Homo sapiens: one gene and its partner. The protein of the gene in region 1 interacts with the protein of each later gene in a biochemical or structural test. Each region holds a gene or a part of one and is shown in the gene's direction. Other genes may lie near its edges.

Region 1 (16,746 bases):
ATTCTATCTAAGCAAGCCTTTGCACACCGTTTATAAAACTGTAAACTCCTTTTGGCTTATACATCTTCCCTTCCTCTAGGACTGAACATTGTCAGGCACATAGGAGGTGTTCAATGAACATTTATCAATCTAAAACAAAGATACTTCCACAGGACCTTGGCAGTTGTACATTCACTGCTGACAGTAAAAGAGACCCAGAGCACTGTGTTCTCTGACCAACAACAACAACCACAACAAAAATAGCATGGGATTTGGTCAGAGGCCTTAGATTTCAGTCTTGGTTTAGCCACCCAAGAGCTCTGTGGCTGTGGAGAAGCCACAGAACCTTGCTGAGACTTGGTTTGCTTATCAATTAAAAACAAACAAACAAAAAACAAAATATTCTAAGATATGAGGGTGCACCTGGAAGCACTGTGCAAACTTGTAAAGTGCTATATGAACAAAATGTGGTATATCCGTAAATGGAACATTATTCAGTCATAAAAAGGAATGAAGTACTGATACATGTTACCATATGGATGGACCTTGAAAACATGATGCTAAGTGGAAGAAGTCAGACACAAAAGCCCTGTATTGTATGATTCCATTTCTACAAAATGTCTGGAACAGGCAAATCCATAGAGACAAAGCAAATTAGTGGTTTGTAGGGACTGGAAGGAGAAGAGAATGAACTTTGAGTGCTTAATGGGTATGTGGTCTCCTTTTGGAGTGATGAAAATGTTCTGTAACTAGTGGTGATGATTGTACATTATGATTGTACTAAATGCCACTGAAGTGTGCATTTCAAAATGGTTAAAATGATACCAAATTGCGTATGTGTGTGCTTTTTACCACAATTCTAAAAAGCAAAAAAAAAAAAAAGTTATATGACGGTTAATCAGCCTGAGAAGTCATCGATTTTTGCAGTCAACATGCAGTCTCTATTTTTTGGCGTTGAGAGAACTTACAAGGAGTAGGTGCATCTCCACTAAGAAGCCTCTTCTGAAGACAGCAGGGATGGGAGTGGGAGAGGGAAGAAGGAGTTCTGGCCCATCTGAAAAGAAAGCTTCCCTTCTGGATGGTATTTGTTTCGTAGATTGCCAGTTGTTCACCCTGTTTGTATTTAAATGAAAGGAGGCTTTGAAGTGGGAGCCGCCTCTGAGCACGGCTTGGGGTTCCTGCCTCCCTTGGTAAAGTTCAGACTTGTCCAGATCTGTTTGTAGCCAGAGGTTACTGTTTCTGGTGGAAAAGGCTCAAGTTTGGGTTAATAATACATTATGAGGAAGAGCAGGAGTAAACCTGGGGAGGGCGGGGGCGGCGGGGGGGAGCGGCGGCAACGAATGAGTTCCTCCCAGCCTTGGTGTGAGAAGTAGCTTTCTGATTTGGCCTTCATGGTTCAGGAGTATCATTTTCTCTCTTACGGTCACTGGCTTCCATTTTATAATAATGCTCGTTGCATCTCAGAGCATATTCTCCTTGGTGAAGAACATCTTTAAGTAAATGTATCAATCAATGAAAATTAAAAGTGCTCAGCTAAGCCCTAGCAATGCCTTCAGGACTTGATGGTTACCAGTTTAAGGAAAGTCTTGAAAATGGCAGGAAATTCAATTGTAGTTGAGTTTGCACATTAAAAAAATTGCTCTCCTAGTTTCAGAGTTAAATATTCAGCCAGCCCACAGAAATTGGAAGTCACAGTTATAGACGGGTCACAGTCTGTTCATGTTGATAGTCTGTTAACAAAATGTAGAAGAGTCTGCAAGCAGGTATTCAAAATAACAGCTCCTCATAGCCAGCCATGTCAACGTGGTTTACAAACAACAGTGGAGAAAGTCTCAACAAACCCTCTGAGGGTGATAACTGTAATGATGGTTCGTATCTTTGCCCTATGTAATTTTATGGGAATTGAGAGTCTAGCCAAATAATAAGTTCCAGCCCTTTTTATCTGCCCAGTTCCCAGCACACTCCCGAGGTGTCTGAGGCACTTCTCAACCCAACCTCTTAAAGCAGATTGTAACAATAACAACGGTAATGACAAGTTCCCGAGCTGCACAGTTCCCTTCATTTAAGGAGCGCTGGGAGCTTCAAAAAAACACTCATTAATGGAATCTGACAAAGCTTGCAAGATGGGAAGTCTCTCCCATTTCCAGTTTTCTGGTGGAAAAGTGGGGACTGAGTCCCAGAGGGGTGTCAGTCTCTCTCAAGGGGCTTGAGGGGGTAGGGGGTTTGGGAGTCCTGGGCTACCATTATTCCATGAAATTCGAGAGTCAAGAGTCCCGGGTTCTGGACGCCCCCTTCCCCGGCGTGCTATTTACCAAGTCGCTTCCCATTTCTGGGCCCCAGTTCCCTTAATAGAAGGAAGGGTTGGGCCAAATGGTCTCCAAGATCTCTGCGGTCAACCCTGTCTTTGCCCCCTCACCTCGCGGTTGGGGGTTTCTCCCGCTTCAGAGTTCGGTTAGACTTGTAGTAGAACCGGGTCGGGGGTGGGAGTGGCGTCGAGGGGTTGGAGTGTTGCGGATGCGGGAAGGAGGATGCCTGATGGGGTCCTGGACAAACTGGTGTTTCACGAGTACCGTCCTATGGGAAGCAGGTCTGGGGAGACCAGGTGAGGCTCTAGGACGAGCTCGGAGCCCCAAATCCCCCTGCTGCCTGCAGCGAAACAATGCGAGTAATGTGCCTTCCCCGCCCAGCCCGGGAGCTGCGCGGATAGGAGCGTCCGCGGGTGCGGGATGGCAGCGGGGAGGCGGATATCGCGGCGGGAGGGCTCCGCGCGGCTTTTGCCCATAGGCGGCGGGTCAGGTGGCCGCGCGCAAGAAGGCCTGGGGCTCAGACATGGGCTTCGGGACAAGTCCCAGGCCGTCCCGTTCCCCAGAACCTGGGCCCTTCAGCCCGGAGTAGTTGGCCTTCCCTTTGTGGTTGGGGGGCGGTGGGCTGGCTCCCCGCCTCCGAGGAGGAGGGGAGGAAGGAGGAGCCGGGTGGGGCGTGTCACGCGAAGGAGCGCCGGGCGCCCGGTGCGGCCCCCTAGGAAGTGGATTTGGCCGCTCCGGATCCAACCCGGCTTCCAGGTTTTCTCCCGGCCCGGCCCAGCGTGCTCCCGCCTGTCTCCGGCCCCCCCACGACGCCCGCCCCCTCCCCCCGAGTGCCGCCCGCTTGGCCAAGTTTGCGGAGCGTCGCCGCGCACGCCGGCCAGTCAATCAGCGGCAGAGCTGAGAAGGGCACAGCCGCGCGGCGGAGGGCAGAGTCAGCCGAGCCGAGTCCAGCCGGACGAGCGGACCAGCGCAGGGCAGCCCAAGCAGCGCGCAGCGAACGCCCGCCGCCGCCCACACCCTCTGCGGTCCCCGCGGCGCCTGCCACCCTTCCCTCCTTCCCCGCGTCCCCGCCTCGCCGGCCAGTCAGCTTGCCGGGTTCGCTGCCCCGCGAAACCCCGAGGTCACCAGCCCGCGCCTCTGCTTCCCTGGGCCGCGCGCCGCCTCCACGCCCTCCTTCTCCCCTGGCCCGGCGCCTGGCACCGGGGACCGTTGCCTGACGCGAGGCCCAGCTCTACTTTTCGCCCCGCGTCTCCTCCGCCTGCTCGCCTCTTCCACCAACTCCAACTCCTTCTCCCTCCAGCTCCACTCGCTAGTCCCCGACTCCGCCAGCCCTCGGCCCGCTGCCGTAGCGCCGCTTCCCGTCCGGTCCCAAAGGTGGGAACGCGTCCGCCCCGGCCCGCACCATGGCACGGTTCGGCTTGCCCGCGCTTCTCTGCACCCTGGCAGTGCTCAGCGCCGCGCTGCTGGCTGCCGAGCTCAAGTCGAAAAGTTGCTCGGAAGTGCGACGTCTTTACGTGTCCAAAGGCTTCAACAAGAACGATGCCCCCCTCCACGAGATCAACGGTAGGTGGGCACACCCGGGAGGTGGGCGCAGAGACCGACACTTCGGGAAGGGAGGCTGCAACTCCCTTCCCCCGCCCCGCCGCCCCCTGCGCCGGACGCAGGTACACTAGAGGGAGAAATGGGCAGTCGAGAGGGCAGGAGCGAGCGAGCGAGAGAGCCAGGCAGCCCGGGCGCAGGACGTTCCCCGCGGGCGCAGCGCTCCCCCCTTCCCAGCACTGCGAGCGGAGGGGCGCCGCCGGGTTGCCCAGTGCGACTGTCGCGCTCCGCTCCCCGCCTCCGCTCCTCCTCTCCCCCCTGCATTATTCGCCGTCCCGGGAAGCCCCTGAGGACTGTGGCCCTCAAAGTGCGTGTCACCGGCTACTTCTCCTTTTCCGGGTTGAACTCCTTATAGGACGCCCCGCTTTGTTGTATGGGTGAGGAGAGGCCGGGTGGGGGTGGGGGTCGCCAGTGGGGTGTGGTGGAGGGAAACGTCCCGGAGCTTGCTAGATTCTGGGGGTCGCAAAACGTGGAACTTGAATTGATGTTTCATTGATGTTCTTTTAAAACTCTCTCCCCGCCTCTCTTGCACCGCTGACAAGGATTAGGAGTTTTAGTAGCCGCAACCGCTTCAGAAGTCGCCTTTAAAAAGCAAACGACTACCCCCACTCTCCACCCCTCCAAACCCTGACTTTTGGGAACTCTCCTACTTTCCGGAAGGTATCAGACCAGAGGAGTATTTTTCCCCTCTTTCTTTTTTCTTACCTCATTTTAAGGGTTAATTGCACTTTCAATTACAGACCTTTGAAAGGACTGATTACAGGAAACCTGAATCTCAGTTTGGAGATGGTTATGCAAATAGAGACGGCTTAGCCTGTGAGAAAGTTCACCGGATTTTGGCGCCGGTGGGGTGGGATGGGGGGTGTATGGGGGTATTTGTGAAAGCCCCTCTCGGAGCGCTGGGGAGGCAGCGTTCGGCGGGTGCCCTGCGTCCCTCCCAGCGAAGCTGGCGGCGGTGTCCGGCCGGGTCCCCTCCGGGTCGCACTGTCTTCTTAGCAGCGGCCAACTGTTGCGCGCAGCCCCGCCGGCCGCGCAGGTAGCCCGTTCGCCCTGGGGGCTCAGAAAGCACCACGAATCTAGCTGGCTGGTGGCCAGCGTAATCTAACGGAGGAGTGAGAGATTCGAGCCCGGGGGGGGGGCTGAGCCTCCACTCCGAACCTTTCATGGAAGTGAGTGGAGCGCGCCTTTGCCTTGCCGTGCTGGTCTCCGGGTGGGGCGGGCAGGGGGCCGGCAGCCAGCAAAGGAAATACTGTAATTTCAACCAGGCGCTTCCAAAGGCTTAGGAAGATTTGGGGGTCATTTTTTGGAAGGGCTATTAATAACCTTGGAGATTAAGTGCAGTCATCAATTACATATTAATTACAAAGGTAATTGAGGGAAGTTGCTGGGCACTTTTGGAGTGTAACTGGCGTCTGTCTAGAAATAGAAGCGAAGAAATTGTTGGAGCAGCCCAGGCGCCCACTGCACCTTGGCAGTTACCAAATAACATGCTCACTACTGATTAGACACTGTTTGCCCTTCAGCTGCCTGTCTTTTGGGGAGCTCAAGTATGTCCTCAAAGCGGCACGATTTTATTGGTTGTAGAGCCCTGAAAAGCCCTCTTTCTTTCCCTTCCTCCTGCCCCGCCAGAAAAAAAATGAAGTGAACCACCAGCCGCTGAAGCTTGGGGACTCTGCAGGTCAAACCTGGGGTCTTTGTGCCCTGCACAGTTTAGGCCTGGGCACAGCGGAGATGATTGGCGTGAAGGTTACAGTTGTCATTCCCACATTTTGAAGGGGTAGATGCAGCTCTGCACTTAATGGGAATGTGACAAGGTTTCATCTTCTGCTCATGCAAACAATATGTGCCTTTGATATTGACTGCAGGCATTCAGCGAGTGGGGTTGTGAAACTGCCCTCCCCAGTTTCCCCAACTTTGCTCTGTGCAGTCTTTCGCTGTGGCAGGGCATCTTCCCCAGCCAGCATCTCAGGAAAAAGGAAGCTTGAAGGGTGCTCAGAGACTCTGTGCTAGGTGTTCCCTTTGATTGTCATCATCCCCAGAAATCACCTGAGGGATATTTTGCGTATATGTCTATCTGGACATTCCCCCATGCCAAAGATAGGGGAGTTATTAGTGACCAGCAGCAGGAAATGGAAGCTAATGTGCTCACACCCAAAACATTTTATTCTTTTTGTCTTGTCCTTCATCTCCCTCCCTGGGCTGCTGCTTTTATTTCCCCTTTTGAATGACCTACTGGACTGCATTCTCCTGAGGAACAAAGGAAGTGCCTTTTTAGCTGGAATCCTTGGAAGACCACCAAGGACTTTAGCTCATGCAGTGCAATTTCGCACCACTTTCAACAATAACAAAAATGCATGACTGAATGGCTCAAAAATGTGGAGTGTTAGAGGCATTCATTTGAGTCTAGGACACTGTCACAACACAGACAGACCCAAGTAAATACCTTTAGACGGCCAGTATAGAAACAGGCGTAATCTTTACCATCACCCTGGCCTCTCCAGATGCATACATTAGCCTTGTCTTCTCTGAGCTACACTCAGATAATTTTGGTCATTTTTTAAGGGGGATAGTCAATATAGTGACTTGTATTCAGCCTAGGTCTGGATGGATTAATTGCCAGGCACTTTGCCTGGGATGGGGAATGTGCTTTTTTCAGTGCAAAACACCCAGGATCATTTTCCAGGTGAAGTATCACAAAGTCTGGGTACCTAGCTCATTGAGCCCCAGGCTCAGCCCAAGTTTAATGTTTTATTCCAGATGGCCTTGCACTTGCCTTCTAGAGGTTTGAACAGGCTTTAAGAATACTCCATGTTCTGGAGGAGTCTCAGTCTTTATAGATCATAGTTAGGATCATCTGATGTGCTCTCAAGGGTGTCAGGGAGTACATCATGCTGACAGGGCTTCCAACTGAGGTCCTGCATTGCCTGTCTGCTTGACCCCTGTACTTTTCAAATAATGCTGAGTCCAGGTGCCATGATCAAAAGGGATCTTTAACACAAAGATTATGTTTTTGTTCAGCTTTCAATGGCCATGTACTTTTGGAGCGCCCACTATGTGCAGTATCCTCTGCTCAGCATTGTGGAGACAGCAAGAAAGGCAGGAGGGGCTTCTGCCACCAGGACCTTTCCTATTAGTAAGGAGATAAGCCACGCACACACAAAATTAGAATACAACACAGTGGTGATAAGTGCCATACAAGCGATACAGATGACGAGAAGGGAGTGCCCAGGCATTTCAAAGAGAGAAGGGATTTAGGACTCTAATACTATAGAATATTAACTGGGTAAAGCTAGTTCACTAGTAAAAATGAAAATACTAATGAAGATAAGTTTAAAAATCTAACCATTTTCATTATGCCTCCCTCCATAAAGACAAAGGTAAAGGGTATGCAACAATGGGCATTTTATTACTCATCTATGTTGAAATTGTTTTTAAGAGTGAGGCAGTGGGTTAGAAGCATTCATGAACTTGCCAAAGGTCCTCTTCACAATGACATTGAATGATACTCAGAACTTTGTGCCCTAGTTGCAGTTTTGGAGTTTTTATTTCTTGTTCCCTTCTGTGTTCATGAGCAATGCACCTATGATCATGTGCTCACACACACATACATATGTACATGCACAAAGGATTCCAGGACTCCTATAAGCTGTTATGACTACGTGGAAAAAAAGTACGTGTGTATGTGTGTTGGAGAGGTAGCAATACTTTCTAATAGTGAGTTGATTATATATGACACACAGCATGTGTCTTTAAGATTTGTATTCCGCCTTCCCCACCGTAAGTAATGTGTTGGATTTTGCAATGAATCTGTGATCTCCTGTTTTGTTGGAATCATCAATTTGGCTCTGTGTTTCACTTGGGGAGGGTCGAATTGAGCCACAGGGCCTATCACTGTAGAAATTGTCCCAAGTAGTTTACAGGAGGTATCTTCTGGACATGTTCAAAAAAGAATTTAGTTAAAGTTCTGGCTTATGCAGCTCAGTCTCTGGTTAGAACATATAAATATAAAATGTCTGATTCAGCATAATTACTGTTTTCCTTTTTTATTTGATTCACGTTGGGTTGCATGCAATTTCAGGATTAACTGGAGACTAGACTGAGGAATGAAAAAGGAAGTTTTTTGTTATGTGTACAAGGGAAACAACATTGGCGTTAATCTGAGGCAGTTGGAAGTGAGTCTCTCTGGCTCCCCAATGACATTAACTGTTTTAGCACTGAGGTTTTTTTCTTATTTATGTTTTTAAAAATGTATTTTGGCCTCATGATAAGAGTTCGTAGCTATTGAATGCTTTCTCTGGGCCTGGCCCTATACCAAGGAACTTACATGATTGTCTCATTTAAAACCCACAACAACCATATGACATCAGAATTATCATCTCCATTTTATAGACAAGAAAACAAATTCAAAGGGATTATGAAATATGTTCACAATCTTATAGCTAATGAATAACAGAGGTGGGATTTGAACCCAGGTCTTATCTGTTCTAGAGTATAGTTCATGCTATGTTGTACAGATAGTAAGACAAGAAAGTACCTTCTCTATTCCCATAGAGGTTGTTGAGATATAAAGTATGGGAGGACCCTCAGCTAACTAGTAACAGACCATCATCAAAACGGCACAATTTTCGTGTTATAGTGGAGAGGATCCAGTCACATCTTTTGTAGACAAAATGTCAAACCCAGACATAGACAATCTAGTGTTAATGGTAGAAGGAATATAAATTGTATTTCCTGGACAATACAATTGAGCCAATGAGGGTTTCTGAGGGAGGGGAATGTCGTCAGTCAAGCTGTTTTAGGAAGATAACTAGTGGCTCTTTGGGTTAAGGGTTGGCGAGGCAAGAGATAAAGACAGGGAGGTCTGTCAGCAGACTCTTTTTAAATAGTTCTTAACTGGTCTACCTGCCTCTTGTCTGTCCCCCCCTCCTAAATCCCTGTTCTATCCTGAACATCGCCAGCTTAATTTCCTTACATCACTGCTTTGATTAGAGTTATTCCTGTGCTTTGAGCTTCAGTGGCTCCAAGCATCTCAAATGATACTTCTTTCATTGAGTCACTTCTGAACTCTCCAGGGTTATGTGCCCACTTCTTCCTAATTCCCTGTTGGAACCAGTCCATGGTCTTTGTACATAACTGCCTTGTATTATAGTTAACTGTGTGTGCAGGTACGTGTTTGTCTTCTCAACTGGAAGCAACTTGAGGGCAAAGATGACAACTCCTCGTCTTGTCTGTGGGTAGCAGTACCAAGTGTGGTAGGTCAGTGCAATATTTGTTAAACAAGTGGGAGAATAACATAGCCAATTCTATTGTGTTCTCTGTCAGACACTAGTGCTACAATGAGATTATACTGCCTTGATGATAGATTGTCATTCCATGGTCTGTTGATCTCCTAGGAATCTTTTGGATCTAAACACTTTTTTTTTTTTTTTTTTTTTTTTTTTTTTTTTTTAAGGCAGGGTCTCACTGTTGCCCAGACTGGAGTGCAGTGGCGTGATCTTGCCTCATCGCAACCTCTGCCTCCCAGGCTCAAGCAATTCTCCTGCCTCAGCCTCCAGAGTAGCTGGGATTATAGGCATGAGCCACTACCGCCTGGCTAATTTTTTTTTTTTTTTTCCAAGATGAAGTTTCGCTCTGTTGCCCAGGCTGGATTGCAGTCGCGTGATCTCGGCTCACTGCAATCTCCACCTCCTGGGTTCAAAGGATTCTCTTGCCTCAGCCTCCCGAGTAGCTGGGATTATAGGCGTGTGCCACCATACCCGGCTAATTTTTGTATTTTTAGTAGAGACGTGGTTTCACCATGTTGGCCAGGCTGGTCTAGAACTCCTGACCTCAAATGATCCAGCCTCCCAAAGTGCTGGAATTACAGGCATGAACCACCATTCCAGGCCTGTATCTAAACACTTTGAAGTGAAATAAATTTAAAGTAAATATGCATATGTTGGTATAGCTTGGAGAACGTTTTTATTCTTTTGGGGGAGTACTTGTCTTTACCACTTCATTAATAACTGAATGCTTATAGGATTTTTTTTTATTTTTTGAAACAGAGTTTCGCTCTTGTTGCCCAGGCTGGAGTGCAATGGCACGATCTCAGCTCTCCGCAACCTCCGCCTCTGGTTCAAGCCATTCTCCTGCCTCAGCCTCCAGAGTAGCTGGGATTACAGGCATGCACCACCATGCCCGGCTAATTTTGTATTTTTAGTAGAGATGGAGTTTTTCCATGTTAGTCAGGCTGGTCTTGAACTCCTGACCTCAGGTGATCCACCTCGGCCTCCCAAAGTGCTGGGATTACAGGCATGAGCTACTGCACTGGCCAGGAATTTTTCAGAAAGATTCAGAATTGTTTTTCTTAATGCCTTGAGATACACTTCTTTAAAGAATGAACAGTTGAGACTGTTGTGATTAGGCAATTTAGAGCAAATTTACCACATGCAACTGTTCAGTGTGCATCAGTTACCTTTTAACATAAAAAAACTCAAGTTTATTGTCTTTACCAAGAAGAACACAAGCTTTGAAGGGTATCAGAATATTTTATATAAATAAACAGACATACTAAAATACAAACAGGTAAAAACTAGCATTTTCAAATCTACTTGGTTAAACATCTGTTGCTTACTATAGAGAACATGAAAGTGCAGAAAATGCATGAAGCGATTCCATCCTGGAGGTAATTTGAAATATTATGTTTAAGTTCTGATGCATTTAATTCAGCAATCTGGTGGGAGAGAAAAATCAAAGAGCTGCATCAGCCAGGTATTCAACTTTTGAGAAAGAAACTCTAACAAATGTTAGAAATTAGGGGAAAAAACTGAATGGGAGAGTTAAAAAAGTCAATAACCTCCAGGAAGCCTGGAAACTATGTAAAAACATCTTATTGGAAGCCCAGATAAATGTGTGCCAGACATCAAAAAGACCAACTGCTCGGGGGAAGAAAAAAAGAACCCGGCATGACTAACTGGCAGAGTAAAAGAGGCTGCTTCAGGGAAAAAGGCATCTTTCACAAAATACAAAGAGTTTAAGCCAGAAGAGGGAAGTCCACTAGGTTTCACAAGGCCCAGGTACAAACTAGAAATTAAGTGGGCTGACAGAGAATTGAAGTTGAATCTTGCAAGGGATTTGAAAGATGGCATGTGTGATAATAATGGTGAAAAGGGTGGGTTGAGTCCAACCTATCTAGGGAGAAGCAATATGGCTTCTTTAAGGGTAAACCATGCCTGATTGATCTCTCGGGATTCTTTGTGTGGAAAAAAAAGCATGAGGATACAGGGAAGCAGACATACATCATTTAGGTTTTTAAAAATTATGCAATGGGATTCTAAGGCAAAGAATATTCAGAAAATATATTTACTTTGAGATAGGTGGGGATAGTTGGACAGAGAGGGAGAGTGAGGGAGGGAAGAGACTCCACTGTTGTAGATGGAGTAGTTTACATGGAGAAGACATGGCTTGTTAGGATGAGTAGTTCTAGCCTAACTCTGGCAAATTTGTTGTCAAATACCTTTGGTGAGGTTCTTCCCTCTTTGAAAAATGGGGTGAAATTGAACCACCTGGCACCTGAGGAGCTTTTAAAATATACTAATGCCTGGGTACCACCCCATACCAATGAAATAATACTTTTTTCAGGAAGGACTAGGCCATGATGGATGGATGGATGGATGGATGAATGTGTGTGTGTGTGTGTGTATTTTTTTTTTTTGAGATGGAGTCTTGCTCTTGTCACCCAGGCTGGCGTGCAATGGCGTGATCTCAACTTACTACAGCCTCCACTTCCTGGGTTCAAGCGATCCTTCTGCCTCAGCTTCCCGAGTAGCTGGGACTACAGGTGTGTGCTGCCACACCCGGCTGGTTTTTTGTATGTTTAGTAGAGATGGGGATTCACCATGTTGGCCAGGCTGGTCTTGAACTCCTGGCCTCAAGTGATCCACCCACCTTGGCCTCCCAAAGTATTGGTATTACAGGCGTGAGCCACTGTGCCTGGCCCATGGTAGTTTTTTTTAATTTTCTTTTTTTTTTTTTTTTTTTTTTGAGACGAAGTCTTGCTCTGTTGCCAAGGCTGGGTGCAATGGCATGATCTCCACTCACTGCAACCTCCGCCTCCTGGGTTCAAGTGATTCTCCTGCTTCAGCCTCCTGAGTAGCTGGAATTACAGGAGCACACCACCACTCCTGGCTAATTTTTTATATTTTTAGTAGAGACAGGGTTTCACCATGTTGGCCAGGCTGGTCTCGAACTCCTGACCTCGTGATCCGCCCGCCTCGGCCTCCCAAAGTGCTGGGATTACAGGCGTGAGCCAGCATGCCTGGCCTAGGTCCCTTCCATCTCTGAGATTCTATTATTCTAAATTTTCCAATGAGATTCATCACAAAATGTTGTTTGAGATAAAGCCTTTAGTTTAGAATCAGTGCATGGTTGTTTTAATTTTGGCTAACTTGGATTTAAGAGAAAGGTGTGTCAAACATGGAGGAAAATGTTTTCAATCAAGATATAAGTGTGAACCACAACTGAGTGCTGCTTTGCTGCAGGTAGAGACATAAGACAAGCACAATGAGAATACTTTGGAAAGAATTAGAACAGAATCCAGCCTTGCTGTCATTTATTGATTAAGTGTCAACATGCTAGGTGATATTTCTTCCCTTTTTCTTTATTGGTAAAATTAAAATAAATCTCTTTATCCCTTACTTTAATGTCCTCTTTGCCATGTGTTTATTCTCTTCAAGTATCTTATCAAGAAATAGAAGTACAGTAAATCCCTAGGCTTCTAGCTGGTGCAACCATCCAGAACACAGCTGGGAATGTGGAAGTAAGCAGAAAAGCCAAATGATGGAAACAGCTGTCATAAAGCCCATGCATTCTATGTGGAGAAAAGGCCTTCAGAAATTTATTATCAGCAATCATTGAATGGCTCCTGTATCCAGAGCAGTATGCTGGGTGCAGGGGATTCCAAGAGGTGTCAAGCAGGAATCAAGCTTTTGAGGAACTTGCATTCAAATTAGGTAGATAGGGTTTATACGTGAGAAGATAAAATGCTTTGGTTATCCAGTTTCCCAGTCTATGGCAGATTAGAAGTAGCAAATGGTATTGGTTGGGGGCCGATGGGAATCACAGGAAGGGATCGTGTTAGAGGCAGGTAAGACTTGACATCTGGAAGAAGTGAGAGAGGACAGTTGGAGGGTGACCAGAAGCTGAATGGGAGAGCCAGAACTTGCTGATCTTGGCAGTTTGAGATCTCCTAGAATGGGCGAATGCTCAAAGCCACCTTTGTAACCATAATCATCGAGGGCACTAGTATATTTCATTACAGTATTAAATAATGGTGTTTGGCTTATTCTGATTTAAAAGTTCAGAAAGTACATTTTAGAAAGAGTTCCATTACTGGGCACGGTGGCTCACGCCTGTAATCCCAGCACTTTGGGAGGCCAAGGTGGGCGGATCACCTGAGGTTGGGAGACCAGCCTGACCAACATGGAGAAACCCCGTCTCTACTAAAAATGCCAAAATTAGCCAGGCGTGGTGGCACATGCTTGTAATCCCAGCTACTCGGGAGGCTGAGGCAGGAGAATTAGTTGAACCCGGGAGGTGGAGGTTGCAGTGAGCCGAGATTGAGCCATTGCACTCTAGCTTGGGCAACAAGAGTGAAACTCTGTCTCAAAAAAAAAAAAAAAAAAAAAGAGTTCTATTGGAAATATTCAAAATATGAAAACTACCCTTAAGGGGGAAATTTAGTTAACTTACACATTTACCTATCTAGAGCACCCAGTTTCCCAACAGTGCTGGATCAACAAGGAGTCAATCTACGTGTCACTTTGTCTTTTTATTTTAAAAAATGTGTTAAAAATTGTATATTATTAATTCAGTGGCTTTTTCACCTCAGAGCTTGTGGTTTATGATTTTGTTCCTCTGCACCTTTTTTTTTTTTTTTTTGAGACAGGGTCTCACTCTTTTGTCCAGGCTGGAATGCAGTGGCATGATCTCTGCTCACTGCAACCTCTGCCACCCAGGTTCAAGAGATTATCCCTCAGCCTTCCAAGTAGCTGTGATTATAGGCATGCACCACCACGTCCAGCTAATTTGTATATTTTTAGTAGAGATGGGCTTTCACCATGTTGGCCAGGCTGGTCTCGAACTCCTGGCCTTAAGTGATTCTGCCTTGGCCTCCCAAAGTGCTGGGACAGGCGTGAGCCACCACGCCCGGCCCCTCTGCACCTTCTTTTTTTTTTTTTTTTTTTGAGGCAGAGTCTTGCTCTATTGCCCAGGCTGGAGTGCAATGGCGCATTCTCCACTCACTGCAACCTCCGCCTCCCGGGTTCAAGCGATTCTTCTGCCTTAGCTTCCTGAGCAGCTGAGATTACAGGTGTGCCCCACCACGCCTAGCTAATTTTTGTATTTTTTAGTAGAGACGGGGTTTCTCCATGTTGGTCATGCTGGTCTTGAACTCCTGACCTCATGATCCGCCCACCTTGGCCTCCCAAAGTGCTGGGGTTACAGGCGTGAGCCACCACACCTGGCCCCTCTGCACCTTCTTTTGAAAGCCCTCTAGAACATCTAGGTTCAACTTAGTTTCTGATACTGTACTACCTGCTGTGGTCAGTTTAGGGAACTGAGTTTTGACCTGAAGTCAACAACAGTTGGTTCCTCGTTAAGGGTGACACATTTGAATACTGGTTTCCCTTGTAAACATTTACCAAACTAGGTAAATGTATAATCATAAGAAACACTAGAAGTTAAGGATAGTGTCTGACTATGTAGCTATTTGAACCTTAAAAAAAAGCAAAGCTTGGCTGGGCATGGTGGCTCTCGCCTGTAATCCCATCACTTTGGGAGGTCGAGGCAGGCAGATCACTTGAGGCCAGGAGTTCAAGACCAGCCTGGCCAACATGGTGAAACCCCTTCTCGACTAAAAACACAAAAATTAGCTGGGGTGTGGTGGTATGCACCTGTAATCCCAGCTACTCGGGAGGCTGAGGCACAAGGATTGTTTGAACTTGGGAGGCAGAGATTGCAGCAAGCCAAGATCACACCACTACACCCCAGCTTGGGCGACAGAGTGAGACTCTGTCAAAAAAAAAAAAAGGCAGCTCTATGTGCCCTATCATGCCAGATCTGAGAAACCATGTATCCCCAGTTCCTAACATACTGCATGGCATGTGGTAGGTGCTCAGGAACGTTAAGCATGACTTTTTGTTTCTGTACTCATTCCAGGACGAGATATTTTTATTCATATCTGCTGTGCTCTTACTCTATTCTTCTAAAATTCATATGTTGAAATCCTAACCCTCAAGGTGATGGTATTAGGAGGTGGAGTCTCTGGGAGGTAAACCCTCATGAATGTGATTAGTGCCCTTATAAAAGAGGCCCCAGAGAAAACCGTTAACACTTGCGCCACATGAAATTACGGTGAGAAGATGGCCCTCTATGAGGAAGCATGCCCTTACCAGAACCCAATCTACCAGCATCTTGATCTTGGACTTCCTGGCCTCCAGAACTGCAAGCAATAAATTTCTGTTGTTTAGAAGCCACCCAATCTTTGGTATTTTGTTTTAGCAGCCCAAACAGGCTAAGATAACCCTTTTTAAATCTAATTATTTTAAGCTATCTCATTTATTTTTAACTTTTGCATACATTCAGTCCTAGATGCCTAAGTAAGGAAAGGAAAAGGAAAACATGTTTTTTTACCCCTTAACCTAGAGCGTGGTGCTCTTTCTTGGCTTGCTTGGAGGTGGGCGCTTAGTATTTCATGTGGTTTGTTTTAATCCCGGTAGACAAATGGTTGCTACTTCTTACGCTGTCTGTTCCAGACATTAGCAGGAACTTGGCTGTGCCTGCAGAGGTGCTTTTTCTTTCTTTCTTTTTTTTTTTTTTTTTTCCTTTTGAGACGTAGTTTCACTCTTGTTGCCCAGGCTGGAGTGCAATGGCATAATCTCAGCTCACTGCAACCTCTGCCTCCTGGGTTCAAGTGATTCTCCTGCCCCAGCCTCCTGTGCAGCTGGGACTACAGGCACCCGCCACCATGCTCGGCTAATTTTGGTATTTTTAGTAGAGACGGGTTTCACCGTGTTAGCCAGGCTGGTCTCGAACCCCTGACCTCAGGTGATCTGCCTGCCTCGGCCTCCCAAAGTGCTGGGATTACAGGCATGAGCCCCCACACCTGGCCTCAGAGGTGCTTTTAGAAGAGGCTACCTTTGCCCCTTTTTGTTGCATCAGCCTTTCTACTAGGTGCTCACTTCCGTCTTCTTCTCCTGGAGGTTTGGGTCAGGACTTGATCTCTGCATCATCGCAACCATTCTTTTCATGCTAGTCCTTTCTTTGCAAAGCCACTTTGTTAGTTTGGCTTTTGCAGGCCTCTTAAAGCCTGTCTTCTTTCTTCTGTTCACCTTCTGCCTACCAGAGCAGGCTGGAAGTGGTTTCTTTTGGACTGTAGACATTTCCTTAGTTCACCAAACCCTTGACGTCATCATCCCAGCAAGCATTAAGCCACCAGAATATTTTTTTTTCCTTCAGTTATTGTTTCTATTTCACCACACATTTGTCTCCATTGAGTTTTCGGTCTGGTGTTTGGTCAGAGATGAAAACAAAGCACTGTGTCCTTGCAAACTGCAGTGTAAAGCATGTGGTTAGCAGTTACTACTTGCAGTGGTCCAGTCTGAGTGGGAGTATCATTTTTCTTGGCAGTGACTTCACAGAAAGTCCTGTTTTTTGGTGCCAGAGTAAGCAGTCATTACATTCCTTACAATTTATAGTCAAATTATTATCTACTATTGTTTAAATTGCCTTAATTATAGAAGATTTCCCTGTGCTAAGATTTTAAAAAGCAAAATAAGACAACTTTTTACCAATGTACTTTAGAAATGGTCCTTAAACATCACCT
Region 2 (16,746 bases), on another chromosome or scaffold:
CTGGTGTGTGTTGTTCCCCACTCTGTGTCCATGTGTTCTTATTGTTCAACTCCCACTTACGAGAGAGAACATGCGGTATTTGGTTTTCTTTTCCTGTGTTAGTTTGCTGAGGGTGATGGCTTCTAGCTTCATCCATGTCCCTGCAAAAGACATGATCTCATTCCTTTTTATGGCTGCATAATATTCCACGGTGTGTGTGTACCACATTTTCTTGATCCAGTCTATCATTGATGGGCATTTGGGTTGGTTCCATGTCTTTGCTATTGTGAATAGTGCTGCAATAAACACACATGTGCATGTGTCTTTATAGTAGAATGATGTATATTCCTTTGGGTATATACCCAGTAATGAGATTGCTGGGTCAAATGGTATTTCTGGTTCTAGATCCTTGAATTGCCGCACTGTCTTCAACAATGGTTGAACTAATTTACATTCCCACCAACGGTGTTAAAGTGTTTCTATTTCTCCACAGCCTTGCCAGTATCTGTTGTTTCCTGACTTTTTAATAACCACCATTCTGACTGGTGTGAGATGGTATCTCATTGTGGTTTTGATTTGCATTTCTCTGATGATCAGTGATGTTGAGCTTTTTTCCTTATGTTTGTTGGCCATGTAAATGTTGTCTTTTGAGAAGTGTCTGTTCATATCCTTTGCCCACTTTTTGATGAGGTTGTTTTTTTCTTGTAAATTTGTTTAAGTTCCTTATAAATTCTGGATATTAGACCTTTGTTAGATGGGTAGATTGCAGAAATTTTCTCCTATTCTGTAGATTGCCTATTCACTCTGCTGATAGTTTATTTTGCTGTGCAGAAACTCTTTAGTTTAATTAGATCCCATTTGTCAGTTTTGGCTTTTGTTGCAATTGCTTTTGTTGAGGTCTCTGCTCTGCTCCATTGGTCTATATATCTGTTTTGGTACCAGTACCATGTTGTTTTGGTTACTGCAGCCTTGTAGTATAGTTTGAAGTCAGGTAGTGTGATGTCTCTAGCTTTGTTCTTTTTGCTTAGGATTGTCTTGGCTATACGGGGTCTTCTTTCATTCCATATGAAATTTAAAATAGTTTTTTCTAATTCTGTAAAGAATGTCAATGGTAGTTTGATGGGAATAGCATTGAATCTATAAATTACTTTGGGCAGTATGTCCATTTTCACGATAGTGATTCTTCCTATCCTTGAGGATGGAATATTTTTCCATTTGTTTGCATTCTCTCTTATTTCCTTGAGCAGTGGTTTGTAGTTCTCCTTGAAGAGGTCCTTCACATCCCTTGTTAGCTGTATTCCTAGGTATTTTATTCTCTTTGTAACGATTGTGAACGGGAGTTCATTCATGATTTGGCTCTCTGCTTGTCTATTGTTGGTGTAAAGGAATGCTTGTGATTTTTCCACATTGATTTTGTATCCCGAGACTTTGCTGAAGTTGCTTGTCAGTTTAAGGAGTTTTTGGGCAGAGATGATGGGGTTTTCTAAATATACAATCATGTCATCTGCAAACAGAGACAATTTGACTTCCTCTCTTCCTATTTCAATACCCTTTGTTTCTTTCTCTTGCCTGATTTCCCTGGCCAGAATTTCCAATACTATGTTGAGTAGGAGTGGTGAGAGAGGCATCCTTGCCTTGTGCCAGTTTTCAAAGGGAATGCTTCCAGCTTTTGCCCATTCAATATATTGGCTGTGGGTTTGTCACAAATAGCTCTTATTATTTTGAGATATGTTCCATCAACACCTAGTTTATTGAGAGTTTTTAGCATAAAAGGGTGTTGAATTTTATCAAAGGCCTTTTCTGCATCTATTGAGATAATCACGTGGTTTTTGTCTTTGGTTCTGTTTATGTGATGGATTACATTTATTGATTTGTGTATGTTGAAACAGCCTTGCATCCCAGGGATGAAGTCGACTTGATCGCAGCGGATAAGTTTTTTCATGTGTTGCTGAATTCTGTTTGCCGGCATTTTATTGAGGATTTTCACATCAGTGTTCATCAGGGATGTTGGCCTGAAGTTTTCTTTGTTCTGTCTCTTCTTGGTTTGGTATCAGGATGATGCTGGCCTCATAAAATAAATTAGGGAGGAGTCCCTCCTTTTCAATTGTTTGGAATAGTTTCAGAAGGAATGATATCAGCTCTTCTTTGTATTTCTGGTAGAATTCAGCTGTGAATCTGTCTGGTCCTGGGCTTTTTTTGGTTGGCAGGCTATTAATTACTGCCTCAATTTCAGAGCTTGTTATTGGTCTATTTAGGGATTCTTCTTCCTGGTTTAGCCTTGGGACGGTGTATGTGTCCAGGAATTTATCAGTTTCTTCCAGATTTTCTAGTTTATTTGAGTAGAAGTGTTTATTGTATTCTCTGATGATAGTTTCTATTTCTGTGGGGTCAGTGGTGATCTCCCCTTTATCATTTTGTATTGTGTCTACTTGATTCTTCCCTCTTTTCTTCTTTATTAGTCTACCTAGTGGTCTAATTTGTTAATCTTTTCAAAAAAACAGCTCCTAGATTCATTGATTTTTTTGTAGGGTTTTTCGTGTCTCTATCTCCTTCAGTTCTTCTATGATCTTAGTTATTTCTTGTTTTCTGCTAGCTTTTGGATTAGTTTGTTCTTCCCTCTTTAGCTCTTTTAATTATGATGTTAGGGTGTTGATTTGAGATCTTTCAAGCTTTCTGATGTGGGCATTTAGTGCTAAAAATTTCCCTCTTAATACTGCTTTAGCTGTGTCTCAAAGATTCTGGTACATTGTCTCTTTGTTCTCGTTGTTTTCAAATAACTTCTTCATTTCTGCCGTAATTTCATTATTTACCCAGGAGTCATTCAGGAGCAGGTTGTTCAATTTCCATGTAATTGTGTGGTTTTGAGTGAGTTTCTTAATCCTGAGTTCTAATTTGATTGCACTGTGTTTTGAGAGACTGTTATGATTTCAGTTCTTTTGCATTTGCTGAGGAGTGTTTTACTTCCAAATACGTGGTCGGTTTTAGAATAAATGCCATGTGGTACTGAGAAGAATGTATATTCTATTGATTTGGGGTAGAGAGTTCTATAGATGTCTACTAGATCCACTTGATCCAGAGCTGAGTTCAAGTCCTGAATATCCTTGTTAATTTTCTGTCTCATTGATCTAATACTGACAGTGGGGTGTTAAAGTCTCCCACTATTATTTCATAGGAGTCTAAGTCTCTTTGTAGGTCTCTAAGAGGCACACCCCCTCCACCAAGAGAGAAAGTGCTTCATCAAACTGGTCCTATTACCCGTGCCACCCAATTGGGTGAGACCCTCTAACAGGGGGTTGTCAGACACCCTATGCAGGAGCGATCCTACTGGCATCAGGTTGGTGCTCCTCGAGGTCAGAGGACACAGAAGAAGCAGGCACCCATCTTTGCTGTTCTCTAGCCTCCTTGAGTAACATCTCCAGGTGCAGGAGCAAATCAGATAGAATAGGGCCTAAAGTGAACCCCCAGCAAACTGCAGAAGCCCTCAGAAGAGGGACCTGACCATTGAAAGACAAAAAAAAAAAAAAAAACTAGCAGAAAGCAACAACAACAGCATCAACAACAACAAAAAATCCCCCACAAAAACCCCATTCAAGGGTCAGCAGCCTCAAAGACTGAAAATAGACAAACTCACAAAGATGAGAAAGAAATCAACGAAAAAATGATGAAAACCCAAAAGGCCAAAGTGCCTCTTCTCCTCCAAATGATCGCAATGTCTCTCCATCAAGGGTGCAGAACTGTATGGAGGATCAGATGGACGAATTGACGGAAGCAGGCTTCAGAAGATGGGTAATAAAAAACTACGCTGAGCTAAAAGGAGCATGTTCTAAACCAATGCAAAGACGCTAAGAACCTTTATGAAAGGTTAGAGGAATTGCTAACTAGAATAACCAGTTTAGAGAGGAACATAAATGACCTGATGGAGCTGAAAAACACAGCATGAGAACTTCGTGAAGCATACACAAGTATCAACACCCAAATCAACCAAGTAGAAGAAAGGATATCAGAATTTGAAGACCACCTTGCTGAAATAAGGCATGCAGACAAGACTAGAGAAGAAAGAATGTGAAGGAATGAAGAAAGCCTCCAAGAAATATGGGACTTCATAAAAAGACCGAACCTACTATCGATTGGAGTACCAGAAGAAGACAGGGAGAACAGAAACAAGCTGGAAAACACACTTCAGGATATTATCCAGGAGAACTTCCCCAACTTAGCAAGACAGGCCAACATGCAAATTCAGGAAATACAGAGAACACCACCAAGATACTCCACAAGAAGATCAACCCCAAGACACATAATCGTCAGATTCTCCAAGGTTGAAATGAAGGAAAAACTGTTAAGGGCAGCCAGAGAGAAAGGCCAGGTCACCTACAAAGGGAAGCCCATCGGACTAACAGCAGACCTCTCAGCAGAAACTCTATAAGCCAGAAGAGATTGGGGGCCAATATTCAACATTGTTACAGAAAAAAATTTTCAACCCAGAATTTCATATCCAGCCACACTAACCTTCAAAAGCGAAGGAGAAATAAAATCCTTTCCAGACAAGCAGATGCTGAGGGATTTTGTCACCACCAGGCCTGCCTTACCGGAGCTCCTGAAAGGAGCACTCAATATGGAAAGGAAAAACCGGTACCAGTCACTGCAAAAAACACACCAAAATATAAAGACCAATGACACTATGAAGAAACTGCATCAGCTAGTGTGCAAAATAACCAAATAGCAGCATGACGACAGAATCAAATTCACACATTTTGCTATTTTTCTAATTATCCTATCTGTCCTTTACCTTCTGTCTTTCCCTTTCTGCCTTCTTGGGTTAATTGAGTAGTTTTAAAATATTTCATTTTGCCCTTATAACTCAGCTGCCAAATGTTTGGGTTGGTGGGGAGCTAACCTTGCTCTTGAACTGTACTCCTGGCTTTCCACATCTTGGAAGATCTCTCTTTATCCTGCTGGTCATTGGCTTTGCATTTGGTGAAGGCTCAGTGCTTCTCAGAAGGATCACTTTCAGCCCTTTGACCTGCTCCCAGCCTTCAGTGGACTGCTGCCTTGCATTCTGCAAAGGCCCAGTGTACTTGAAGAGGATCTCTTAGCCCTTCTGTTCTGTTCCTAGCCTTTGGTGTGTGGTACTTGTGCACTGGGTGGAAGCTCTATGGGAAAGAACTGGCAGGTGGATATGGAGTTGCTCTTTGATCAGGGCTCTTCAGAATTCTAATTCCTCACATCAGCAGCTAATAAAAGTTTCTTAAAAATTCAGCTGGTTTCTTCGTGGTCCCATTTTTGGCAAGTTTATTCCTCCTTCTATCAGAGATGAAGCAGCTATGCATCTCTTTTTTGGGAAGAGGTCATCTGTATATCGAATTTATTTAGGAGATGAAGCAGCTATGCATCTCTATTTTGGGAAGAGATCATCTGTATATTGAATTTAGTTTATTTAGGTTTTTTATGCATCTCAGCTCAGATAGTTTTTATAGAAAATCTATGATTTTGTGACTTCCTCAACTTCTTGTTGTAGACTCTGGTTATTTTTAAAACTTGTAATTTAAAAATTATATGCCAATGGAAACACTCTTCAAGAATCTTACATGTAATGCTTATTGCTTAGTGGTTTAATGAATGACAACAATCCCTGAGTGTGGGAATAGTTGAGGTCTACAAAAGGTTAATGAGTAAATGAATTATGTTTACTTTGGGTATTGAGTCACTGGTACTGATCTGGCCATACACGAATATCCCTAATCACCCTCATGACTAGTAATACACATTTATAAGATGGTGGACCAGAGCTGGGCTAGCGTTGATTGATAAGGGACAGAAAGAAAGTATAGCGATTGATTATTCAGCCTTGCCTCATGGGCATTTGTACATCCTTATGAGTTAAAGTGAGATGCAAATGCATTCTTCATTAAAATGGCTTATCTGAATCATTTTAGAGCTGTATGCAATAATTTGCTTATACTCATTAAGATAAGTTTGGTTATGTTGATTAAAAACAAAGCTTATTTTCTGCATTTTCCAATAATATTGTAAAAAATACTTCATACCCTTCATTGTTTGGGTTTCATGTCTTCATTACATTCCTTTTACTTCGTATTATCTTTTAAGATTTTGTAGAAGAATTTCACTTGGGTAACTGTAGGCTTAAATGATGCAATGCTTTCTGGAATCCAGGGGTGACTGACACACAGAGGTGACTCAGACATGAAATGTTCAACAAAATTCTAAGATTGTCTTTTTTTTAAATTGTAAATTCTTAAACATTCATAAAAGTAGTGAGATTAGAATAATGAAATCCTGTGCTTCTAATGACTGTTAACACAAGTGAATCTTATTTATCCTATCCACTTTATTAAAAATTTAGTTATCTATTATTTAAAATAATATATTAGCTTATTTTAAAGCTAATCCCAGATATTATGTTTCATTTTGCATGTCTGTTGCTGTCTTGGTAGGAAAAATTTTAAAACATAAATTACTATGACATAATGATATCTAACAAAGTTAATTATTTAAGAAACTTTCAAAAGTTGCTTTTTCATGCCGTTTCCCTAGCTACCTATAAACACCTGGAAATTATATTTATTTTATATTTCTAATGTTATTCAAATGATAATATGCTGATTTCTAAAATTGCATTTTTTTCTGTTGCTCTCAAGAATATCCTAAACATATCCATAGGATGTGGGATGACCTATGAAAATAGTCTGGACAAACATTTATCTTGTTTATCTTATGATAAGCAGAGTTCTGAGAAGTTTGGTAATAAAGAGTTAACTTGGTTTAACTAAGATTTTCCTAAATTATTTGACACCAGAACCTATTTTTTATTTAACATCTGTTAGCAAAAATATATTTGGGGGAATATTGTTCTAGGCAGGAGAATGCTGCCTCTGAATAGCAAAATAATCTTTACTTCATTTTTATTTCAATTAATTAGGTAATTATTTGTCCATATTACATTATCATCATAATTAAGTAATTTTTTTTTGTTTTTCTGTAATCTGCTTAATATTGATAATGTGGTGTGACAAGTCATCTTTCTCAGGATCTTATTTTATGAAAATCTTTCATCACACTTATTTTATGAAAATCATTTGCTGTGTAAGCAAATTAAGTATAAGCATTTTGTGTTTCCACTAGATAGATATTTGCACACAAAAAAATAGACATCAAAATCCCATATAGAAAGCTAAATGCATCTATAGTTCATTGAAGAGGAAGCTAGAAATAAGATGTGTAGAAGTCAAAGAAATAGGGCCGGGCGCGGTGGCTCATGCCTGTAATCCCAGCACTTTGGGAGGCCAAGGCAGGTGGGTCACGAGGTCAGGAGATCGAGACCATCTGGCTAACATGGTGAAACCGCGTCTCTACTAAAAATACAAAAAATTAGCTGGGCGTGGTGGTGGGCATCTGTAGTCCCAGCTACTTGGGAGACTGAGGCAGGAGAATGGTGTGAACCTGGGAGGCAGAGGTTGCAGTGAGCCGTGATTGTGCCACTGCACTCCAGCCTGGGTGACAGAGAGAGACTCCGTCTCAAAAAGTCAAGGAAATACAGCTCAAATTATAACAGTGAATAACTAGATTTTGTTTCATTTGTGAAGAATTGGCAAATAACTTTTAAATAGTTTCAACATAGGCAGTAGCATGGGAATTCTCCTACACTTTTATGTACCCTTAAAATATGTTCACTTTAAAAAATGTAAATAGTTAACAGGGGCGATTGAAAGCTAACTGCCCAACAAAGGAAACAATTCTCCGTGTGTCCCCCTTCTCTGCTCACCCTGTGACACCTTCTCTGCTCACCCTGTGACACAGGAGCGACAAGGAACTCACAAGGCACTGGTGCCCTAGTAGTTCTGCATCTCATCCTCTCTCATACAGTTTAGTTGACATCTGCTCCCTGTCACTCACCCATACCCCCAACCTCACCAATCCTCCAAAGTGGATTAGTTGTTGCTTAGGTGTGTTTTGTCTTTATATTGCGTAAATATTGTGAAGAAGGCTCTTTCCTCTGTGGTGCTACAAAGATAATTTTTTTTCCCGTTACAGTCAAGCTACAACTTCAAGCAGAAGAGAGAGGAGTTGTGTCTATCAAAGGAGTGTGTGCTAACCGTTACCTGGCTATGAAGGAAGATGGAAGATTACTGGCTTCTGTAAGCATACTTTCTGTTTTCACACGTTTTTTGTTAGCTTTTATTGCTGTTAATTTACCAGCATTGTTGTTTATCAAATCTTTATAAAGGATTTTACGTGTATCATCGTCATAGTCACCCTGTAAAATAGGGAGTATTTTCTTTATTTCACAGATGCAAAAACTGATGTGCTGAGGGAGTAAGTAAAGTAAGAAAACACAGCTCATATAAAGTAGAGACTGGATTGGGCTGGAGGCATTCCTGACCTCTAAGTCACTGCTTTTACTCTGCAAAACTATTAAGCTATAATTTAAAAAAAATTTTCTTCTATTATGCAGTTGTTTGAAGATCATTGGGAATAAATGTATACAATTTTGATTATTAGTTTTTAAGTTTCTTCTTTAGAATGTGACGTACAAAACACTAGCAATGTAGAACACTAGTTGAGAATGTAAGCTTTCTGCCTGGTACAGATGCCGACTCTGCCACTTATGAGCTCTGTGTTCTTGGGCAAATGATTCTGAGTTAGTTCTCTTACCTGTAAAATAGAAACAATGATACTATCTCATTGGGATTTTATCAGAATTTAATTAGATACTACACATCAAGTGCCCAAATCAGCATCTGACACGTAATAGATCCTGAAAATTGTTACTTCTTCCTCACATTACTTCTCATTTACATATATGTCAGGAGAGGGACTTTTTTTTTTCTTTTTTTTTTTGAGATGGAGTCTCACTCCACTGCGCAGACTGGAGTGCAGTGGCGTAATCTCGGGTCACTGTACCCTCTGCCTTCTGGGTTCAAGCAATTCTCCTGCCTCAGCCTCCCGAGTAGCTGGGATTACAGGAATGCACCACCATGCCTGGTTAATTTTTTTGTATTTTTTAGTAGAGACAGGGTTTCGCCATGTTGGCTGGGCTGGTCCTGAACTTCTGACCTCAGGTGATCCGCCTGCCTTGGCCTCCCAAAGTGCTGGGATTATAGGCGTGAGCCACCGTGCCTGGCTGTAGAGAGGAACTTTTCTTTTTTACATGTTATCACAGCTTATCAGGGGTCCTAGTTCCTGGCTAGTATTCTTTCCACTAGTACAGGCTCCCTGTCAACTTCACCATTATTATTAGAAACGGGACTGCATATCTGTTGAACATATGATGTATAAAGAATGGTGCAGGAAAATAAATATAAAAGACAGATCTCATTCCTGTCTCCGTGAGGGAGTAGATAGGACATGTATGTAAATGTTTGTGCGTGTGTGTGTTTCACAGCTCTTACACCAATGCCACTGGCCAGTTATGACATCTCTATATAACCTCCCCACAGAAAGGATCTAACAGTACTAAGAAATTGTGGTATTTTGAGCTATACAAATAGTTTTTGAAATTTCTTCTGAATGAAGACCTTTGGATTTCTAAAAGCACCAAAACAAGGCTTACAGAGAAAAAGGGTATCTAAACTATCCCAATTTCAGACTGACTGTATGACAAAGATATACTTACATTGATATTACCAGTTTATGTAATTTTTGCAGGATAAATCACAAGTTTGAGTGTAGTGGCTCTCAATTTTGGGGGGAGGTAGTTGAATAAATTTTAGAATTCTCTTTAAGAATAGCCAATACTTATTAAGTGAAAGTGTGCCAGATGCTATGGTAGGCATTGAGCTTATAAAATTGAATATCAAATTGTCTCTGCCCTTAATGAGTGACAATCCAGGGGAGGCAGAAGTGTAAATAAGTATTTATAATAATGTATAAGGGTTTTGATATGCTACTTCTATATTTTGCATACATGCATAGTAATATAGGAAAGGATAAGAAGTATTATGATATAGGAAGCAATATAGAAAATGAGGTAATTACATTTTTCTAGAATTGGGGGAGATGACCTATAAGTAGAATTTTAGACGTTGTAAAGGAAGGAGTTCAGCAGGCAGTCATGGGGCAGAAGAAATTGAGATGAAGGTATAGATAACTCTAGGACATAGGACATGAAAAGGTGTGGATAAAAAATCTACTTGATGTATCTCTAGAATTACAAGTAATTAACTAATGCTGGAATGTATAGTGCAATGGAGTAACTAGGTGGAAGGGAAGGGAGAGAAGGCTGGGGAGGTAGATAGACTGTCTGCTGAATCTGTTGAAGGGCTTTATACACCATGCTGACTATAAGCAGTGGAGAGCCATGAAGAGTTTTAAGAAGAGATCTAATTAGATTTAAATTTGAGAAAGATCATCCTGGCAGAAGTGTAGAGAATGGACTTGAGGGGGCCAAGACTGGTGGAGAGAGATCAGTTAGAAGGCCACTGTAATAGTCCAAGCAAGTCATGTTCTGATCCTGGCAATAACAGTAGGTCAGAGAGGAGTGAGGAAAGTGCTAGCACTTGTGATTGATTAGATTTAGGACTGAAGATGAAAGAAAAGTCAAAGATGGCTTTTAGGTTGCTGGTTTGGGTGAGAAGGTAGACGAGAAAGGGGAAGGAAGAAAAGAGCAAGGTTTGGGAAAAGGTAGTAAGTTCGAATTTAGACCTATTTAGTTTGAGTTGCCTAAGGGAAATTCAGGTAAAGATGTTCAGTGAGTAGTTGAAATTATAAATCTGGAGCTTAGAGGAACAGTCTACATTGATTGTTAGATAGATTTGGGTATGATCAGCATATAGGTGGTAGTTAAATTGGGGGAATGTATGCAGTTTCCTAGGTAAAGAATACAGCTCAAAACATTAACTACTTGGGACTTTCACTTCTTCTACTCTGTACTTGCCTTTTATTCTGCCAATCTATTGTCAGCTCAAGAGGTGATGTAATAGTTTGGGAATCTACCAAAGTAGCATTTTAAATATCTCCCATGAAAGTGAACCAATAAGTAATTTTGGATGACTGACATTTTATTAGTGAGAGGAAGATGAGTTTCCAACCCTCCTGCCCCTTTCACTTTAGGATGTGACAAATCACTATGCTTCTGCAGTAGAATTGGTTTGGCTACTGTCAGACAGTGAGGGTGGTAGAGGAAAAAAAAGGAGTTGCACACAACATTTGCTCCTGTTATAACTAACTATGGACAGCACTAATAAAATGGTTTTAAAGCTCCAGCCTTTTATATGTCTGCCATAATCTGGGTCAGTGAATGCCTTGAGATTAGTTGTTACCCTGTGGTGTTGTTGAGATTAGAAGATGCAGTAACCTAGTGCATTAGTCCATTTTCATGCTGCCGATAAAGACATACCAGAGACTGGGCAATTTACAAAAGAAAGAGGTTTAATTGGACTTACAGTTCCACATGGCTGGGGAAGCCTCACAATCATGGCGGAAGGCAAGGAAGAGCAAGTCACATCTTAAATGGATGGCAGTAGGCAGAGAGAGCTTGTGCAGGGGAAGGCCTCTTTATAAAACCATCAGATCTTGTGAGACTTACTATCACAAGAACAGCATGGGAAAGACTTGTCCCCATGATTCAATTACCTCCCACTGGGTCCTTCCCATAACACATGGAAATTCAAGATGAAATTTAGGTGGGGACACAGCCAAACCATATCATTCCACCCCTGGCCCCTCCAAAATCTCATGTCCTCACATTTCAAAACCAATCATGCCTTCCCAACAGTCTCCCAAAGTCGTAACTCATTTCAGCATTAACTCAAAAGTCCACAGTCCAACATCTCATCTGAGACAAGGCAAGTCCCTTCTGCCTATGAGCCTGTAAAATCAAAAGCAAGTTAGTTACTTCCCAGATACAATGTGGGTACAGGCATTGGGCTAATACAGCCATCGCAGATGGGAGAAATTGGCCCAAATGAAGGGGCTACAGGCCCTATGCAAGTCTGAAATCCAGTGAGGCAGTCAAATCTTTTTTTTTTTTTTTTTTTGAGATGGAGTCTCGCTCTGTTGCCCAGGCTGGAGTGCAGTGGCATGATCTCGGCTCACTGCAAGCTCCACCTCCCGGGTTCACGCCATTCTCCTGCCTCAGCCTCCCGAGCAGCTGAGACTATAGGCACCCGCCACCATGCCCGGCTAATTTTTTGCATTTTTTTAGTAGAGGCAGGGTTTCACCATGTTAGCCAGGGTGGTCTTGATCTCCCAACCTCGTGATCTTCCCCCCTTGGCCTCCCAAAGTGCTGGGATTACAGGCGTGAGCCACTGCACCTGGCCCAGCAGTCAAATCTTAAAGCTCCAAAATGATCTCCTCTGACTCCATGTCTCTCATCCAGGTCATGCTGATGCAAGAGCTGGGTTCCCATCATATTGAGCAGCTCTGCCCCTGTGGCTTTGCAGGGTACAGCCTCCCTCTCAGCTGCCTTCACAGGCTGGCATTGAGTGTCTGTGGCTTTTCTAGGTGCATGGTGCAAGCTCTCAGTAGATCTACCATTCTGGGGTCTGGAGGATGGTGGCCCTCTTCTCACAGCTCCACTAGGTGGTGCTGCAATAGGGACTCTGTGTGGGGGCTCTGACCCCACATTTCCCTTCTGCACTGCCCTAGCAGAGGTTCTCCATGAGGGCCCCAACCCTGCGCAAACTTCTGCCTGGGCATCCAGGCATTTCCATACATCTGAAATCTAGCGGAGGTTCCTAAACCTCAATTCTTGACTTCTGTGCACCCTCAGGCTCAACACCATGTGGAAGCTGCCAAGGCTTGATGCTTGCACCCTCTGAAGCAACAGCCTGAGCTGTACCTTGGCCCCTTTTAGTCACAGCTGGAGCAGCTGGGAAGCAAGGCACCAAGTCCCTAGACTGTACATAGCAGAGGGACCCTGAGCCCAGCTCATGAAACCATTTTTTCCTTGTAAACCTCTGGGCCTGTGATGGGAAGGACTGCTGCAAAGGTCTCTGACATTCCCCAGAGACATTTTCCTCATTGTCTTGGTGATTAACATCTGGCTCCCCATTACTTACACAAATTTCTGCAGCCCACTTGAATTTTTCCTCAGAAAATGGGATTTTCTTTTCTATTCCATGGTCAGGCTGCAAATTTTCCAAACTTTTATGCTCTCCTTCCCTTATAAAACTGAATGCCTTTAACAGCACCCAAATCACATTTTGAATGCTTTGCTGCTTAAACATTTCTTCCGCCAGATACCCTAAATCATATCTCTCAAGTTCAAAGTTCCACAAATCTCTAGGGCAGGGGCAAAATGCCACCAGTCTCTTTGCTAAAACATAACAAGACTCACCTTTGCTCAGTTCCCAACAAGTTCCTCATCTCCATTTGAGACCTCCTCAGCCTGGATTTCATTGTCCATATCATTATCAGCATTTTGGTCAGAGGCATTCAACAAATCTCTAAGGAGTTCCAAACTTTCCCACATTTTCCTGTCATCTTCTGAGCTCTCCAACCTATTCCAACCTTTGCCTGTTAACCAGTTCCAAAGTCACTTCCACGTTTTTGGGTATCTTTCAGCAGCACCCCATTCCTAGTACCAATTTACTGTATTAGTCCATTTTCATGCTGCTGATAAAAGACATACCCAAGACTAGGCAATTTACAAAAGAAGAGGTTTAATTGGACTTACAGTTCCACATGGCTGGGGAAGCCTCACAATCACGGCGGAAGGCAAGGAAGAGCAAGTCACATCTTAAATAGATGGCAGCAGGCAAAGAGAGAGAGAGCTTGTGCAGGGGGACTCTTCTTTATAAAACCATAAGATCTCATGAGACTTATTCACTATCATAAGAACAGCACAAGAAAGACTTGTCTCCATGATTCAGTTACCTCCCACTGGGTCCCTCCCGCAACACATGGGAATTCAAGATGAGATTTGGGTGGGGGCACAGCCAAACCATATAACCTAGTAATCATGGTGACTCTGTAAGATAATTGCCGGTGGAATTTTTCATCTCCTCAGGAGCACTGGCTGAATATTGATTCATTGACAATGATAAAAAGACCCATTGTTGTTAAAAGTGATGAAAACAGAAATTGCTCTATCTTCAAGTGTATCTCTGAAACTACTAGGGTACATAAAAAGATGAGACAAGTTAAAAGAATGTAGACCTGAAAAGAGAATTCTGACTTTTTCTCTTGGCAAATAGGTATTAAGCTTCCCAAACTGTTGATTCTGTACCATCAGAAATGTAAAATACTCAAAATAAAGTTTTCTAGTTTCATTCTTAGCTAAGCAGGAACTTGTGAAAGTTAGTCTTAAATGTGTTTCTATCTCTTTGGATGTATTAACTCTTTCTGATGGAACAGATTTCCACCAAGTTGGTGCAGTAAGAATTAATTTACCAATGCTTAGAAATGTATCACAAACACTCTGTAGAGACAAAGCCATGGCTATTAAGCATAAATTAAAAATTCAGGATTTCTTAGTCTCCTTTGAGGAATGGCATGACCAAGATCCAGTTGTACGTTTCAGCTCTCGTCATACGACCTGTTCACAAGTTAATCTCTAGTCTTACCATCCAATTTGTGTGGCTTGATGTCATGCCTTTTCAGCAGCAATCCTGTCTCTTTCAAATGTTCTTGGTGGGCTGTGTCAATCTTCAGATGAAAAAGTAAGCGTGCCCCACCTCAACACCAAAGATATGGTGTTGGTGATTCAGTAAGTGGCACATTTCTCTCCGAGTCAGATCCATAGACATTAAACTGTCAACAACAGCAGCTTTTGGTATGAGTTCAGTGTTCTGACCAGTAGCCATCATCTGGGGATGCAGATGTGCCTCGTAACTTGAAGAAACTGGAATTTATGAACTTGCACTTGCCAGAGGCATAGTCCTTCCCACTCTTCTACCTGGCCCTTTTTCAGACTACTGTGTTATGACACATCCCTGGGTTCTTCTCCATTTTACTCTGTGATTCCTGCAGTGATTTCTAAAGCAGTCTAGTTTCCTCCCAGAAAGAAGAGTGCTGTGGATACAAAAAACATTTTGGTTTTTAAGAGTTATGTTAGGTTGATTACCAATTAGAGTATGAAAAAAGACTAATTTGTATACCGTTTTTTCCCCAACACCTTCACATATTAATGGTATGCATGTTTTCAGGTTACCGATTTTGTGTTGTTTGAAAACATTTCTTAAGGGTCTTTCCTTTCCTTTTGAAGCTAGGAAATAGGAAAATTCAAAAAATAACTATATTTAATTGCCAAAGCCTGTATTTGGAAGCTGAAGTTAAATAGTTCTTTAATGCACAACAGACTTCTTACTCCATTCCATAGCAGGATAAATTTTGTTGCTATGAGCAACAGAAGTCCAGAACAAATATTAGAATTGATGATTTAAGTGTTCACAAAATTACAGATTTTTAAGAAAATTGCATAAAGTGAAGTTAATTGTAGTTTTAAGTTTAAATCACCAAATGACCTCAATGTTAGCATTGGTATGAAAAAACTTTACTGATCTTCATCTGCCAGAAAGTTGCACATTGTTTTCTATATAATGCTATATAGATCATGATATACCCTGAACAAAATATTAATATCTCAGTATTAGAATGTAATTTGCATTGATCCACAATAGTGAAATATGAAAAAATGTATATTCTCTGAGGATATACATGTAATTTCTGTAAAAGTAAAATACATTTTACCTACAGAATAACTTTCTTAATTGAGGGGCCTTCACAATGACATGAAATCTATAATAAAGTAAAGTAGAGAAAATAGATATCTGAGAGCCCAATTATCCAGACTGACAATCTATACTGATGAAATTTGTGAGAAAAATACAGTAATTGAAGAGGAATATATATCCTTTTTAAGAGATAAAATACTAGAAAAAATACAAAGGTTATTGCATAATGAGAATTACTGTTCTTTTATAACTCAATCTTAAAACTGTTATGCAACCTATAGGTATTACAGGTTTAAGATCAAATTTAGGCCTGGCACAATGGCTCATGCCTGTAATCCCAGCACTTTGGGAGGCCAAGGCAGGTGGATCACTTGAGGTCAGGAGTTTGAGACAAGCCTGGCCAACATGGCGAAACCCCATCTCTACTAAAAATACAAAAATTAGCCGGGCATGGTGATGCACACCTGTAATCACAGCCAACTTGGGAGGCTGAGGCAGGAGAATTGCTTGGACCCGGGAGGTGGACATTGCAGTGAATCAAGATCACGCCACTGCACTCCAGCCTAGGCGACACAGTGAGATTCCATCTCAAAAAAATAAAAAATAAAAAGATCAAATTTAATTTTAACTTTTCACTATTTGGATGTTTCTTTTTTTTCTGAAATAGTCAACATTGATACTTACATCATGTCTGTTTTTAATTCTCAGAAGTGGTATAAGCAAAAGCACTTTTGGATTCCTATTGAGCAAGCTCCCTCAAAAGCCAAAACTGAAAAATCAATGTACTGTAAAAGAATAAACAACCCAGTAAACAGAGCATGGGGAAATGGTCATAAGGTTCAAATCTAAAATTAGGAGTGGACTAGTATTGTGAGGCCGATGCATAAGGAAGGGAGAGTTGGGGTGAGAGGAGGTGCTGGGGGGATGTGAGGAGAACTTGGCTCATGTGCTTATTTCTTTCCTTATTGTGTACTAAGGCTACTAGAGATTAGGAGGGATTCTAAAGACCATCTAATCCAATCTTCTTATTTTACAGAGGAGGAAAGTGATGCCTAGAGAAGTTAAAGGACTTGATTGAAAATACAAGTTAGTTAGGGATCAAGGCGATATTAGAAGCTAGGTTTCTTGGCCCTT

What was found.
Region 2: the proteins of GPC4 (region 1) and FGF2 form a complex in vitro, tested with the Homo sapiens proteins (one study listed by BioGRID).

The regions. Positions count from the first base shown.
Region 1 is NC_000023.11:133,401,908-133,418,653, reverse strand, and holds the start of GPC4 (glypican-4 precursor), read left to right. Parts: upstream 1-3,164; 5' UTR 3,165-3,688; coding exon 3,689-3,848; intron 3,849-16,746. UniProt on the Homo sapiens protein: Cell surface proteoglycan that bears heparan sulfate. May be involved in the development of kidney tubules and of the central nervous system.
Region 2 is NC_000004.12:122,868,293-122,885,038, forward strand, and holds part of FGF2 (fibroblast growth factor 2 isoform 18 kDa), read left to right. Parts: intron 1-8,028; coding exon 8,029-8,132; intron 8,133-13,582; exon of another isoform or gene 13,583-14,950; intron 14,951-16,076; exon of another isoform or gene 16,077-16,746. UniProt on the Homo sapiens protein: Acts as a ligand for FGFR1, FGFR2, FGFR3 and FGFR4. Also acts as an integrin ligand which is required for FGF2 signaling. Binds to integrin ITGAV:ITGB3.